2 separate regions of the Homo sapiens genome follow, and region 1 is linked to region 2. The links come from fine-mapping of genetic effects on gene expression. Tissue or cell type: monocytes. Region 2 holds a variant in brackets; the other region holds the start of a gene. All regions are shown on one strand. Distances are between the middles of the regions.

Region 1 (8,000 bases), 230 kb after region 2:
GGTAAGTTTGAACCTTTAGGAAGCATTTGATCTACTAGAGAAGTAAGAAGTATATACTTCACCTGAGAAACAGCCCAAGGCAGCATAAGTGGGGTAGGGAGGTGCAGACCAGATACATGGATTCATAAGGGCCGAAGAGGTTGAGACCTCTTCGGTCTCAACCCATGAGAATGAGATTCTCATGGGGTGGGGTTAATCAAGCACAGTTTTATGGAGGGAGTGAATCTTGAGCCTGGATGTGAAAGTAGTTTAATATCTGGATTGCTGCAGAGCAGAGGAGAATGCTTCCTTGGGAAGAGGATCAGAATGAGGTCTTGGGGGAAAAGTGGGGTTTGTTCTAGGAGTAGAAGGACATTGGAAAAGGAGACTTCATGTTGGGAAATTCAGGAAAACAATGAGAGGTAAGATGAGGCCACATTGGAAATAAAGAACTGGGAACCACTATACGTTTTCAAATAGGGGAATATTATGATGTAAAATTAGTATTTTAGGGAAAACTGGTATTGTGTCTATGTGCACTTGTGAGTGAGACCACGAAGAACTACTCTGGTGTTCAGATGCCAGAAGGGTGAGTACTCACCTGGAAATTGGGAAGGAAATGAGTGAACCTGATGTACATTTTAGGAGGTATTTGTCTATTGTGCTGAGGTCCATAAACAGTCTTTCTCTACAGTACGAGAAATGAGTGGCCAAAGGGAGAGAAGCCACAGGACTCCAGCTAGCAAGGCCTGCTCCTCCTCCACCTGCCCCTCCCCTGTCCCATGGAAATCATCCAGTCTGAGGCCCCTCCTTCAACAGCAATGCAGCCAGGAGTTCACAAAGGGAAGCATTTCCTTTCCAAAGACTGCTAAGATGGTTTACCCTGTTATGCCAGGAATGTTAACAAAATTGCAAATGTACTTTTATTCTTTTGTTTTTTCTCTTTTTTTTGAGACGGAGTCTCACTTTGTCACACAGGCTGGAGTGCAGTGGTGCAATCTCGGCTCACTGCAAGCTCCACTTCCCAGGTTCAAGCGATTCTCCTGCCTCAGCCTCCCAAGTATCTGGAATTACAGGCACCCATCACCACGCCCAGCTAATTTTTGTATTTTTAGTAGAGATAGGTGTTGCCATGTTGGCCAGGCTGGTCTCAAACTCCTGACCTCAAGTGATCCACCTGCCTCAGCCTCCCGAAGCGCTAGGATTACAGGCATGAGCCACCGCACCCTGCCTGTTTTTTTTCTCTCTCTTTTTTTTTTTTTTTTTGAGGCAGGGTCTCAATCTGTCACCCACGCTGAAGTGCAATAGCACAATCACGACTCACTACAGCCTTGAACTCCTGGGCTCAAGCGATCCTCTGGCCTCAGCCTCCCAGGCACCACCATGCTCGGCTAACTTTAGATTTTTTTGTAGAGACAGGGTCTCACTGTGTTGCCTAGGCTGGTCTTGAACTCCTGGGCTCAAGCAAGCCTCCCACCTCAGCCTCTCAAAGTGCTGGGATTATAGGTGTGAGCTACTGCACCTGGCCACAAGTGTATTTTTTTTTTTTTGAGACAGAGTTTCACTCTTGTTGCCCAGGCTGGAGTGCAATGGCGCAGTCTCAGCTCACTGCAACCTCCACCTCCCGAGTTCAAGCAATTCTCCTGCCTCAGCCTCCCGAGTAGCTGGGATTACAGGTATGTGCCACCGTGCCTGGCTAATTTTGTATTTTTAGTAGAGACAGGGTTTCTCCATGTTGATCAGGCTGGTCTCGAACTCCTGACCTCGGGTAATCCACCTGCCTCGGCCTCGCAAAGTGCTGGGATTACAGGCGTGAGCCACTACTCCAGGCCAAGTGTATTTTTTTTTTTTTCAGACGGAGTCTCACTCTATCGCCCAGGCTGGAGTGCAGTGGCACGATCTTGACCCACTGCACGCTCCGCCTCCCAGGTTCACGCCATTCTCCTGCCTCAGCCTCCTGAGTAGCTGGGACTACAGGCGCCCGCCACCACACTGGGCTAATTTTTTTGTATTTTCAGTAGAGACGGGGTTTCACCGTGTTAGCCAGGATGGTCTCGATCTCCTGACCTCATGATCTGCCCGCCTCGGCCTCCCAAAGTGCTGGGGTTACAGTTGTGAGCCACTGCGCCCGGCCGCCAAATGTATTTTTAAATTACACATTCTATAGCTCCCCACTGGGTGACCAAGTAAGAGTGCTTTTCTTTTCTTTCAGTCAACAAATATTTTTCTAGCAACTCCCACATACCCCTGTGTACTATCCTATCCACTGGGGAGAAAAATGGTAAATAAGACCGTTTCCAGAGCATATGAGGGAAAGAAACAAAACCACAACAGATGAGCACGCCACACTATTCCATGGCACATTAAATGCTGCGGCTAAAACATGCAAGAAGCTAGAAGTAGAATAATGGCGATGGGGGCCTTCTCTGGGAGGGATGGTCAGGGAAGGCATCTTGGAAGGTGTGGCCTCAGTGACAAAGGAGGCCTGCTCAGCACCCTTGAAGAGGTCCCCACCTAGGCTCGTGGCTATTTCTGGACAGGTTTCTGGATGTGACGGTGCCTGTCTGAGGAGAGGGGCAGATGTGGGAGGTGGCTCCATTTCCTGCAGGAGTCTTGAGATGCTTGAGTCCCTGGGTGCTGGGGAAGTCAGTTCTAGATATCAGTGGGTTTGTGTGAATGGCTAATGACCTGAAATCAACCCCTCATCCTGTGGGGCAGAGATGTTGTTTCAGGCACTGCTCTGAAGTATGGTGGAAAGCACAGAGTTGCTTGGGGTCTCAGCTTTACCTGTCCCGGTCTCTCTTTTTGGTCTCTTAACTCTAGGCTGGATGGACATGGCCCCTTAAGGAAATGAAAGTGAGTGACTGAGTCCTAGCAGAAAAAGGAGGAGATCTTGGAGTTCCTGTCTTCCAACACGCACCTCTTTGGTTGTGATGGTGAAGTGGGACAGTGCCATCTCAGCAGGGACCTTGGATGTGCTCTAGAGGGGGTCTTGGAGGTGTAGCATCGTTACATCCCCTCCCACCATCCTGCCTACACAGTGGTTTTGGGGGCACAGATATTTCAGAGAGTAGTCTTCCCAAGAACCCTACATCAAGTATGCTACCACCCCTTCCCATTCTTGATTCTGGTCCCCTCTTTATTTTCCTCATAGTATTCACTGGACCTAACTTATGATACATTTGTTTGTTCACTGCCATGTCTCTGGCACTTAGAGCAGTAACTGGCACATATTAGGCACCCAGGGTGTAATTCATTTGATTAATGAATGTATTGAATGGCTGCATGGATGAATGAAGAGGAGGAACAGAGCAGATGTCTGACCAGCTCATTCTGGCTTCTGGAAGGATCCTGATTGGGAATTTTGCATCTTTCCCTCCCCACAGCCTCCTAGTCACTACTACTAAAGAATAGAGACCCTGACTCCCACTTTTTTTTTTTTTTGAGATGGAGTCTTGCTCTGTCACCCGGCTGGAGTGCAGTTGTGCTATCTTGGCTCACTGCAACCTCCACCTCCCAGGTTCAAGCGATTCTCCTGCCTCAGCCTCCCAAGTAGCTGCGACTGCAGGCATGTGCCACCACATCTGGCTAATTTTTATACTTTTTTATTACAGGTGAGCTTTCACCATGTTGGCCGGGCTGGTCTCGAACTCCTGACCTCAGGTGATCTGCCCACCTTGGCCCCCCGAAGAGCCCCGCATTCTTAACTACTGTGTTTGGTATGTTTGAATTGACACTTGCCTCTTAGGAAGGGGAATCTTTTTAGACCCTGGGGAAATCTGTAGTTATTGCAAAGGCCTTTTCCTGCCTGTTGGGCATTTACCAGATCTTTCTTCCTACACAAGGAGAGCCTCCCCTGGTTGAATCCTGCTATAAATCTCACTAGTGACCCACAAACAGGGGTCCCAATGTGACCTGCTCATTAACACAAAACCGTCAGCCCCCATACAGCTTCCTGCCTTCCCAGTCGGGTTGAGGCAAGAAATTTCCATTCTGCCCATGCTGATGAAACCAGTCGCCAGCATTTACCTTTCTAAGGGGTCCTTTCTCCTCCCACCCCAGCCCACCCCAGCACAAGAATGTAAGAGAGGGCAAACAGCTGCCTGGCTTCAGTTCTATGGCCACTCAAGAATTGGCTCGCATCTGTCTGCCAGGACAGAGAGCGTCCTGAGGGGGCTGGTGTGTGTGTTGTGTGTGTGTGTGTGCACGCGCGCGTGCATATGTGTGTATGGGGGAGTTCAGTTTCAGGTACCACACATCTGGAAGTCAGAGAAAGAAGCCACTGCACATGTTAGAGCCATTTTGGGGGGCAATTTTTAAAAAAAAAAACATTTTTAATGGGCTGAGAGCCGCCTCGTGGAAAGCCCGGGGCGGGGGATGGAGTAGAAACAGCTGCGGGAGTGATTCTTGTCTCCATATATGTTTATAAGGCACTGAGGGCGGGATTAGCAGCTCCTGGGAAGTCTGGCTCTAGTTACCGTGTCAGCCTGTCCTGGGGGCAGTCACAGCCACAGTGACCATTAGCAGGCACCCAGGCCTGTCTTTGGCTCGGAAACGGTGGCCCCCAATGTAGCCTAGTTTGAACCTAGGAACTGCAGGACCAGAGAGATTCCACTGGAGCCTGATGGACGGGTGACAGAGGTGAGAGGCACTGGTGTGAGGGACAAGTGTCACAGGCGGGGAGGAAGAACTCCGCTATCTGGTGGTGGAAATGTGTGAGGATCAAAGTCCCCAGGGAGAGTAGGTGTTGCGGGCGGCAGGGTGGTGGGCTGGGCACGGGCTGGGCATAGGCTGGGCAGGAGGCTTCGGGGCCGCGGGGAGGAGGCTGGAGAAGCAGGAGGGCACGGGCGGCCCTAGCTCTGCAACCCCGGGAAGGACTGGTAGGTGGAGTTAAGGATATTTGGACAAGGAAACGCTTTGAAGCTTTTCTCTCGTCCTCCCTACTCGGGACCTGGTCGCCTCCCCTCCATAAAACCATTAGCTCCTGGTGCCAGCCCTATCTCTGCTCCATCTCTCGTGGTTCCAGCCGGTGCATTCACAGACCTTCTGCCCCGGGGGACGAGGAGGATTTATGGGGGGAGAGGAGAGGGGGAGGGGCATCCTCCAGAGGAGGGGGGGTCTGAGGGGAGTCGGGCGTGGAAGCTGTTAGTCCCGGGCTGGGGGCCGGCTCACTTCCGAGCTGGCTCTGCATGACAAAGGGGAAGGAGCAAGTGTCTTCTTTGATCTGCCCCCTGCCGGCCCCACACACCTGCCTGTTGGTGCCCCCGCCCCAGCCGAGGCTTCGAGAAGGAAAATCAAAAGGGGGCTTGGGGAAGGGCTGTGTCCCAGCTCTCCTGGACCCTGCTCGGGCCACTGTCCTCTCCTGGCGGCCCCAGGACAAAAATACTTCCCGGGCTGATGACCCGAAGCACCCGCCGCCCCCTCCCGGGGAGCCTGGGGACGCCGACGCGCGAGAGTGGCGCAGTGAGCCGGGGCGCGCGGGGCTGCGCTCGTCAGGTCCGGGGCCCCGGGGAGGCCGCTGGGGGCGCGGGTCACGCCCAGACGGGGGCCCCGGAGGACCGCGGGGGAGCCGCAGGGGCCGTGTGTCCCGAGGCGCAGGCTCGCTCTAGCAGCACTGACCTGCTGCGGGTCCCAGGGCCTGGGGACAGGGGCTCTCGGGGGCGGATAGAGGAACAGGCGTGGGTTACAGCAGGCAGGAGGCCAAGAGGCGGGAGGCCCGGGAGCCAGCAGGGAAGGGCTGTGGCATCTGGAAGATGCGTCCTCAGCTCAGGCATTTGATGCCAGAGCTGCCGCCTGGCGTCGGCAGTGTCCCCGGTGCAGCTGCTGGGCAAGGTACTCGGTGCCGCCCTCGAGGACCACGGTGCCGGGAGGGGCAGGGGCCGCCTAGGGAGGCACCACCTCAGCCGCCAGAGCTTTCCGGGCGGGCGGTTCGCGGCGTGGCTTGTACATTTCTCAGAGAAGCTGCCTTGAGAAAGTGAAAAGTCCTTGATCTGTACGCAGGGGTTGGGACTTAGGAAACCCGCTGAGGGTGAGAAGGGCGCAGATGGAGAGGGGAGACTCCTCCCTGGGTGCAGGTAAATCCAATTCACCAAAATGTTTTAATCCTACAAAGGAGAGCCTGAGGGTCAGAGAAATAAGTCTCTGGGCTGGAATGAGAGGTAGGCACGTGGGGGAGTGGATAGGATGGGCCCCATTTCTTTGGATGTTCTGCAGCAAGGACAGGTATGCTTTACAACAGCCGAAGTGGCCTCCCGGCTGCCGAACGGAGGAACGCCGCAAGCTCCGCTCTTGAAATTACTTGTTTTCATTTCTCTTTGTGGTTTCTCAGCTCATTATTTCTTTGGAAATTAGGTCCTGTGCAGGGTTCCCACAGTTTGGGGTAAGAGACAGAAGTCCTAGGGTGGGAAGATGAGCAGTGGGAGGCGGAGGCTGGAAAGAGGCCGAGCTTCTTTGTGGGGAACACGCAGCACGTAAGCATCAGTGCAACTTTCTCCGCCTCACCCCGGCTCCTGGTCTGCCCTTATCCGCTGAGTTTCCACACTGACTCTCCATTTCTGTTTTCTCCAGGGAACCCTACTCTGGAAACTGTCAGTCCCAGGGCACTGGGGAGGGCTGAGGCCGACCATGCCCAGCCTGCTGCTGCTGTTCACGGCTGCTCTGCTGTCCAGCTGGGCTCAGCTTCTGACAGACGCCAACTCCTGGTGGTGAGTAAGAGGGGCTGAGGTCCTGCCTGCACAGCCGGAGGCCTCCTTCAGCGACTGAGATGAGGAGGAAGGGCACCGTGTGTCACGGTAGTACCTTGATTCCTGGGAGTACTAAGGGCCTCTTTTATCCCAGGAAAACTAAGAACGCTCTGTGTCTCTCTCAACCCTTATCTTTGTAAGGGTTCCCTGAGGATAAAGGTTCCGTTCATTTGATTTTTTTCTCTAATCCTGTCCACATTCCTTTTCCTTGGACCTTCCCTCATGCCCATGAATTGTTAGAAATTGCTCTTGGGTCAACAAGAATATCAATACTTGGTAGTTTTTTGTTCCTTTGTTTTGTGTGTTTTGCTGGTAGGATATAGAATTCCTCTTTTATAAGTCTGAAGGCCAGATGAGGGGTTCACAGCACCATGGGTGGCTGGCTTTCTTCTTATGTTTTAAGGGCTGTTGTCATTGCCAAGTTGACAGGGAAATGGCAGGCGATCACCACCTATTTTGCATGGTCTCTGCCACTAGCATTTTTACTCAGATAGCAAATCTGCAGCCTTCTCATCTAACACTCTATATGGCTGGTAGATGATGAGCAAAAGGGAGAGCCTCTGAACTGGTGGAGAGTGGATGAGGGGAAGCTCAAAGTGAGACATGGCAGTGAAAACAAGTAGACTAGATCGTGATGTATGTAAAGTGATTGGATTTTAAAGGCCCAAAGGGAGTACCACGCAAAGGATTGATTGCTTTCCATGGCTTATCATGTACTTGGGCTGCACTGAACTAGTCACTCCTACTCATTGAATGAGGCCTGTGCTCTCCTGTTGAGGTTTGGCTCTTTTTGCCCTCTATTAAAATGAAGAGCTGCTCCCCACCCCTCGTCTTCTTATCTGCCTGACCCCCATTCTTAAGATCCAGTTCAAATTCTGGCCATTTCCTTATAAAGGCTTCTCTTCAGCCATAAGGGCTATTTTCCTATCTGATCACAGCAGATCCAGAAGCATATCCAGAGTCTGTCTGGGGCATTTGGCATCTCGCATGTCCTTTGTGTTCATGCCTCAGATTCCTTCAGTTTGTCCTTTGAAGGCCAGCACTCTGATTTACTAATTTTTCTTTCCAGGGCCTTGTACACAGGGACGCATTCAATAAATGTGTTGAATGAATGACTTAATGCTGCACACAGGCGTATGCTCACTCCTGGGCCTTTTTTTCCCCTTTCTGGATTGCTGTCCTAGGTCATTAGCTTTGAACCCGGTGCAGAGACCCGAGATGTTTATCATCGGTGCCCAGCCCGTGTGCAGTCAGCTTCCCGGGCTCTCCCCTGGCCAG
Region 2 (8,261 bases):
TTTATGTCACTACTTGTCTGGGAAGTTCCTACCTGAAGATCACAAAGAAAGAAATGTACATGGTCCTTACCCATTCATAGTAAGATAATGGCAAGCTGAGGTGCTTTGTGACCAAAATCGAGAATTTAACAACACACTCAATTAAGCAGGCTGTGCACATTGGGAACTCTGATACTCTCCTGGTGGGAATGCAAAATGTAGACCTCTTATAGAGGCAGTTTGGCAATATGTAGTAACATTGCTTATCTGTGCGTTGACTTTGTGACCCAGAAGCTTTACTTCTAGAAATTGGTCCCACAGACACATCTTCAAAAATACAAAATAACATATACACAAGGAAATTCATTGCTATAATATTTATAATAGCAACAGATTCAAAATAACCCAGTTGTGCCACAGTGGGATATTTGTTGTCAATTATAGTATATCCATCAGAGTGGAATACTGTGCAGCTGTAGAAAGGGATGAGAAAGATCTCTATTGATATGGAGCGATTCCCAGAACATACTGTTAAATGAAAAAGCAAGATGCAGAATAATGTATTTAACATATTACTTTTTATGTAAGAAAAGGGGGAACATGTGCAATTATATGAGTATATGATTGCTAATAATTGCAAGAAGAAACAATTGAAAGACAAATCAAAAATTTACCCAAAAAAGTTACCTCTAAAAAGGAGGGAACAGGATAGAGGAGACAGGGGTGGAAGCAAGCCTTCTGTGATTATACCTAGTTATATAGTTTTGACTCTAGAATCAAATGAATGTATTACATAATCAAAAATAAAATTAGATCTGAAAAAAGGAAAAAAGCAGTCCTTGAAATTTAAAAACAAACAGAAACAAATGAATCTAATTATATATTAAATTGTTGACATTCACATTGAGCAAATAATTATTTCAGCTAACTTTATAATACAGATTTTTCTCTGTACATCTCAGTAGGATAAACTCCAAGTAAAAGAACAAAAATGCGAAGTTTTTTTTAGTGGTCTCACTCTCTCCCAGGCTGGAGCGCAGGGGCACAGTCACCACTCACTGCAGCCTCAACCTCCCAGGCTCAATCGATCCTCCCACCTCAGCCTCCCAAGTAGCTGGGACTGCGGGCACATGCCACCGTGTCTGGCTAGTTTTTGTATTTTTTGTAGAGATGGGGTTTCACCATGTTGCCCAGGCTGGTCTCAAACTCCTGGGCTCAAGTGATCCTCCCTCCTCAGCCTCCCAAAGTGCTGGAATTGTAGACGTGAGCCACCGTGCCCAGCCCAAATAGATTTTAGAGTTCATCCTGAAGGCATATTGATAGTAATTGTATTGGTTTTGAATTTTAAAAGCATTATATTGTTAGAGAAAACAAATAACAAGTAATTATGTTATTGTTAGGAACCAAAATTTTTCAGCATAAGAGAAAAAAATATAAAGTATAAAATCAAAGTAGTTTAGTAAACCCAGTCTTCAAGACTGAGATCTGTAATCTTAAATCTGAATTTAAAACATTACTGTTAACCAATAATTTTCTCCCTTTTAAAAAAATATTTATTTCCTATCTCTGACTGAACCAGACTAGAAGAAATGATAAATAATAAACACCCCACAGCCGGATTGTGGTTTCCCACTTAGTCTGTGTATGGTATGCTGCTATAACAAAGTCGGTAGGTAGGTAGATTATAAAGAACAGAAATTTATTTTTTCACAGTTCTGGAACTGGGAAGTCTAAGATCAAGGCACCAGCAGGTTTGGTTGTCTGGTAAGGGCCGCTTTTGACTTTTAAGATGGTACCTTGTTGCTGTATCCTCCAGAGGGCAGGGACGCTTTGTCCTTGCACACATCTATTCATTTACTCATTTGTTTATGTAATGAGTTCCCTAGTAAACTTCAGTGCTGACAAATGAGTTTATTTTCTTTTCTCCTACTTTTTTTTTTTTTTTTTTTTTTTTTTTTTTGTTGAAACAAGGTCTCACTCTGTCAACCAGGCTGGAGAGCAATGGTGCGATCATGACCCAAGGCAGCCTTGACCTTCTGGGCTCAAGCAATCCTCCCACCTCAGCCTCCAAAGTACCTGGGACTACACACAGGCATGTGACATCATGCCCAGCAATTTTTTTTTATTTTTTTGTAGATACAGGGTCTGGTTATGTTGCCCAGGCTGGTCTCAAACTTATAGGCTCAAGCAGTCCTCCCACCTCAGCATTCCAAAGTGCTGGGATTACACGTGTGAGCCATCACGCCTGCCCTCTCTTAATATTTTTTAAGAGCAAAAGCATTATTTACTTACATGGCTGCACATTGGCTTATTTTATATACCTTTATTGAGATATGATTCACATCCCATGCAATTTACCCGTTTAAAATATGCCATTCCATATTGTTTAGTAAATCACAGAAATGTGTAACCATCACTACAATACCCTATTTTTTAAAGTATCTTTTTCTAGTATTATTTCAGTGTCATCGCTTTTTATATATTAAATACATTTTCACAAATTGAAAGCATTATTGATTTTGCTGCTCAAATTGTTAAATGTAGCCATTGTCCCTTTCCCCCAGGCCTGGCAACCACTGATCTACTTTCTCTATATATAGATTTGCCTATTCTGGAGATTTCATATAAGTGAAATAATATACTATGTTGCCTTTTGCAGGACTTCTTTAACTTGGCATCATGTTTTCAAGGTTCATTGATACTTGTAGCATGTATCAGTACTTCATTCCTTTTTATGGCTAATAGCTCATTATATGGATATGCCAGATTTTATGTATCCATTCATAAGTTGTTGGATATTTGGGTTGTTCCTCTTTTTTGACTATAATAAATAATGATGCCGTGAACATTTGTGGGTGCTTTTTTGCATGGAAACACGTTTTCAGTTATCTTGAGTATATACCTAGGATTGGAATTGCTAAGTCATATGGTAATTGTATGTTTGCCATTTTAAGGAACTACCAAAATGTTTTGCAAAGAGACCTTACCACTCTACAATCCCACCAGCAATATATGACCGTCCCTACACATTCTCACCAACACTTGTTATTGACTTTTAATAGCCACCCTGGTGGATGTGATGTGGTATCTCATTATGGGGTTTTGTTTGTTTTGTTTTATATTGTATTGCTTCTCCGTTGTTCCTGTAGATCACTGTGGCTTTGATACGCATTTCCCTATTGGTGTTGCACATCTTTTCTTGTGCTTACTGCCTATTTGTGAATCTTCTTTGTTGATTGAAAAGATTCAAATCCCTTGCTCATTTTTAATTGGGGTATTTGTATTTTTATTATTGAGTTGTAAGAGTTCTAGACACAAGTCCTTTATCATATATATGATTTATAAATATGTTCTCCCATCCTGTCGTTCTCTTTTCACTTTCTTGTTGATACTGTTTACAGCATAAAATTTTATAAATTTTGATGTGCTCCGATTTATTTTTTTTTCTTTTGCCGCTTTCGCTCTTTGGGTATATTATCCAAGAAATCACTGCCTAACCCAGGCCTCAAAGATTTACTCTTATGTTTTGTTCTAAGAGTTTTATAGTTTTAGCTCTTCCATTTAGCTCTTTGGCCCATTTTGAGTTTATTCTTTTATATGTTCTGAGACTGAGACTTAATGAGTTTGACATCATTTTCTTTGCATGTCTATTTCTATTTGTCCCACACCATGGGATGAAAAGAGTATTCTTTCTCCATTAGATTGTCTTGGTACCCTTACTGGAAATCAGTTGACCATAAAAAAATGATGATTTGTTTCTGGACTCTCAATTTTGTTTCATTGATTTCTTTGTCCATCTTTATGCTGATAACACACTGTAGGTAAACCTACTATTTACTGTAGGATCTGAAATCAGAAAGTATGAGTCTTCCTAACTTTATTCTTCTCATTCAATATTGTTTTGGCTATTTTTGTATTTTTTTTTTTTTTTTTTTTTTTTTTTTTTTTTTTTTGTGACGGAGTCTTGCTCTATCGCCCAGGCTGGAGTGCAGTGGCGTGATCTGGGCTCACTGCAAGCTCCACCTCCCGGGTTCACGCCATTCTCCTGCCTCAGCCTCCCGAGTAGCTGGGACTACAGACGCCCACCGCTGCGCCCGGCTAATTTTTTGTATTTTTAGTAGAGACGGGGTTTCACGTGTTAGCCAGGATGGTCTCCATCTCCTGACCTTGTGATCCGCCCGTCTCAGCCTTCCAAAGTGCTGGGATTACAGGCGTGAGCCACCGCGCCCAGCCCTATTTTTGTATTTTTTAAAACACCATGTGAATTTACAGTTCTCTCAAAAATTGAAGAAGCAGTAATAGAAGTAGCACTAATAGTAGCAGTAGTCATAGTAGTAGAAGAAGAAATGCTGTAGCAAATAAAGGGGAGGGAGGATAAAGGAAGCAGGTAGAGCAGTAGAATCGTTTCTGAAGGAGGACATGGATGTATGGGTTTTTTCTGTTCTTTCCTCTGGTGTATGTTTGGAAATTCTCCATATAAAATATAATTATTTTAGTTTTAAAAGGAGAACAGGCTCTGAAGCTAGACTGTTTGTATTAGAGCTCTAGCCCTGTGACTTATTCATCATATGAATGTCGCTAAGTTATTTAGGCTCTCTGTACCTCAATAAAATTGACATGCAAATTGTACCAACTTCATATTGTTGCTATGAGGATTAAATTACCTAAAGCTCTCAGAATACTTGGCACTTAGTAAGTATTCAGTAAATGTTGGCTTGGAAATTGACTATTTTTGAAGGGAGGGCGGTAAAAAAAAAAAAAAAAAAGAGTATTTTTAAAAGTACACGTAGATTTACCAAATAATCAATAAATCTAGTTATTCAATTAAAAACTTAGTGGCAAGTTAACGTATATGAAAGGAGAATTAATGAACTTGAAGATTCTGCCGAAATTATCCAAAATGCAGTGCAGAAGGATAAAACAAAATTGAAAATATCAAAGAGAGATTAGGAGACATGGAAAACAGACTGAGAAGGTACATTCATCTGATAGGAGTTTTGAGAAAGACCATAGGGGAAATTCAGAAGGACCAATATTGCAAAATAGGAAAGTA[T/C]ACATTTAAAAAACTGGAAATTACAGATTTTGCAAATTAGAAAATAAGGAAATTGCAAATATTGTAAAAAAGAGAAATTGCAAAATATTTAGAACAGGGAAAAACACTTTATATCAAAATTTGTGAGATGCTGCTAAAGCAGTTCTTGGAGGAAAATTTATACTCTTAACACATATATAAAATTGAAAATGAAAAGGCTGGGCACGGTGGCTCACGCCGTAATCCCAGCACTTTGGGAGGCCAAGGCAGGTGGATCACTTGAGGTCAGGAGTTCAAAACCAGCCTGGCCAACATGATGAAACCCCGTCTCTACTAAAAATACAAAAGTTAGCTGGGCATGGTGGCGGGCATCTGTAATCTCAGCTACTCAGGAGGCTGAGAAAGGAGAATCGCTTGAACCCGGAGGTTGTAGTGAGCCGAGATCACACCACTGCACTCCAGCCTGGGTGACAGAGAGAGAGACTGTCTCAAAAAAAAGAAAGAGAAAGAAAAAAAGAAAGAACAGTAATGAGCTAAGCATCCAAATCAAGAAATAGAAAAAGAATATCTGTGTAACCCCCAACACACACACACACACACACACACACACACAAAAGAACAAAGAAAATAAAAACAAATTAAATGAAATAGAAAACAAGCTGTAAGAGAAGATCAGTGAAACTAAAAGCTAGCTCTTAGAGAGGATTTAATGACTTAATTAGATGTGAAATACATAGTGAGACAGATTGTTCATGAAGAAAAGACCAGATATTATAATAATTTTAACAGTGACTTAATCTGATGTCCCTTCAGACTTCTATTACTAAAGAATTAATTAGTCTGCTTTTATTCTGGTTAATAGAACCTGCAACTGAACTCTCAGATTTTTTTTATCAATACTAAAACACAAATCTAATTAGAATTTAAACTTTTTCTTTTAATAGCTGCGTTTGGATAACCTATCCTGTCTCTTAGCTTATGTATTCTTCTATGAAATGTAGTTTCTGTAACAAGTTATTTTAACATTTTGGACATTGACATTTTTGTCGTAGAAGAAAAAATTAACAGAATAGACAACTAACTCCTTTTTCCTCTGGGAGGGTATGTATACCTGGAGATATACATTGATAGCAAAGAAGTCTATTTCAGCAAGTTTCTTCCTTCTTCCCTTCTTCCTTTTTTTTCCCCCTTCCTTCCTTCAGACAACGTTATTCTTTATGTCGTTGGGACCAGGGGTTTCATCTCCCTGCACATGCACCTGGCACGGTTCAAGAGGAAAAACATTTGGATATAAAATATCTTTCATGTCAGTAAAACATGAAGGAATTACTCCTTTTGCTTTTTGGTCTTATCTTGAGAAGAGCATACTATGAGAGCCCCTTAAGAGCACAGAGTCATTTATATGATCTGTGTAACATCTAATGCTCTGTGAGCTGTCAGATATTTAGTGCTCAACATCATAACTATGCAGGGAACAGACTTCACACCAAGTTTCTTCATACTAGACCTAGGAACACTAAACTTTGATCATCTTCGTGTCTTTTTGGAAATGGAGAAGTAAGTTCTTACAACTGTTTTTTTCATTCTCTGACGTGGATCAAATAAGGAATCTTTGGTCTTATCTGTCCACTTGGATCAGTTTTTTTCAGGCAGGCATACGTACTCACTCCTAAGAAGTACTTTAAATGCGTTCTGCCTTGAAAATGGATTTGTGTGTACTTTATTAGGATTTCTTTTTAAGTTTTTAAACTTATGCTAGATATCAGATATTAAAGATTGTCTCATGTTCTAAGAAAATAACTAGCCAAGTCTACTTTCACCCACATTCCTGTTAAAGTCAACATGGAAAGGTTTCTTAACCAATTGAATGACATGATACAGATGTTTCGCTCACTTTCTGTATATGCCTCTTTCCTTTCTTCTATTTTCCTTTTTTCTGAGAGCTGCTTTGCAGAAGACTTTGTCATGAAATACCACATGCCATAAGAAAAATTAGCCTACATCTTTTCAAGATTGTCTTAGTCCATTCAGACTGCTATAACAAAATAACTCAGACTGAGTAATTTATAAACAATAGAAATTTATTGCTCACCATTTTGGAGACCAGAAGTGCAAGATCAAGGCAGCAGCAGATTCGGTGTCTGATGAGGGCTTGCTCTCGGCTTCGTAGATAATGCTGCTTCACTGCATCTTCACACTGCAGAAGGGCAAACGGGCTCCCTCGGGCCTTTTTCCAAGTATAATGGATACATTTATTTATTTACTCATCCATTTATTTATTCATTCATTTATTTACTCATCCATTTACTTATTCATTCATTTGCAATAATCCTTTGAACAACTACTGTTTGCAAAAAAAAAAAAAAGTATGTTATTTGCCACCAGTTTGATAATGGAGATAACAGTTCTATATGAAAAAATCGATAGTTGGTCTCACAAGCAAAGTGTGCTGGGAGAGCAAAAACAGAAGAAAAACATTATTTTCATATTTTCTCTTTTGAGTGAGACACTGTCCTCTTTAGGAGTTCAGTTTCCTACCAGTGATAGAACTAGATATTTACATCTCCCAAATCAAAGTACAAACTTTGGCCATAGAACCTTGTTCCTCGTTATTTTCTTTTTATTTTCAACTTTTATTTTAGATTCGGGGGATGCATACACAGGTTTGTTCCCTGGGTATATTGCATAGTACCCTCAGGCCTTTTTTACAGGGATGCTAATCTCATTCATGAGGGTTCCACCCTCTGACCTAATCATCTCCAAAAGGCCCATTTCATAATACCACCAAATCAAAGGTTAAGTTTCAACATCTAAATGTGGGGAGAGCCGGGCGCAGTGGCTCATGCCTGTAATCCCAGCACTTTGGGAGGCTGAGGCAGGCTGATCACTTGGGGTCAGGAGTTTGAGACCAGCCAGGCCAGCATAGCAAAACCCTGTCTCTACTAAAAATACAAAAAAAATAGCCAGCGTGGTGGTGTGTGCCTCTAATCCGAGCTACTTGGGAGTCTGAGGCAAGAGAATTGCTTGAGCCCAGGAGGCAAAAGTTGCAGCGAGCTGAGATCTCGCCACTGCATTCCAGCCTGGGCAAGAGAACGAGACTCCGGCTCAAAAAATATAAATAAATAAATAAATAAATAAATAAATAAATATAAATAAAATAATATAAAATTGGGGGGAACACAAACATTCAGACCATAGCAAAGGTCTCTGGGGGTCCTCCCAGAAAAGAGAAATTTGATTCACAGATAAT

Which allele goes with the higher level. Alleles are on the strand shown, and positions count from the first base shown. SD is a standard deviation of normalised expression in the study named.
With allele C in place of T in region 2, the expression in monocytes of the gene that starts at base 4,480 in region 1 is higher (large effect, 1.4 SD a copy in Quach 2016).

Evidence for each region. PIP is the estimated chance that this variant, and not a neighbour inherited with it, causes the effect.
Region 1: it holds the start of WNT5B, and the variant in region 2 is fine-mapped to the expression of WNT5B in monocytes (Quach 2016, PIP 0.95).

The regions. Positions count from the first base shown.
Region 1 is chr12:1,624,752-1,632,751 of GRCh38, forward strand. It overlaps WNT5B (Wnt family member 5B), which reads left to right and starts at 4,480. Exons shown (of 5, transcript NM_032642.3): 1 at 4,480-4,620; 2 at 6,547-6,683; 3 at 7,907-8,000. The coding sequence starts at 6,604. RefSeq lists silencers at 5,398-5,587, 5,618-5,677, 5,632-5,926 and an enhancer at 6,108-6,207.
Region 2 is chr12:1,397,022-1,405,282 of GRCh38, forward strand. All of the region lies in intron 16 of ERC1 (ELKS/RAB6-interacting/CAST family member 1), which reads left to right. Among named protein-coding and RNA genes, the nearest start is that of LINC00942, 99 kb to the right of the region's middle. The variant T/C (reference allele first, on the strand shown) is at 5,033.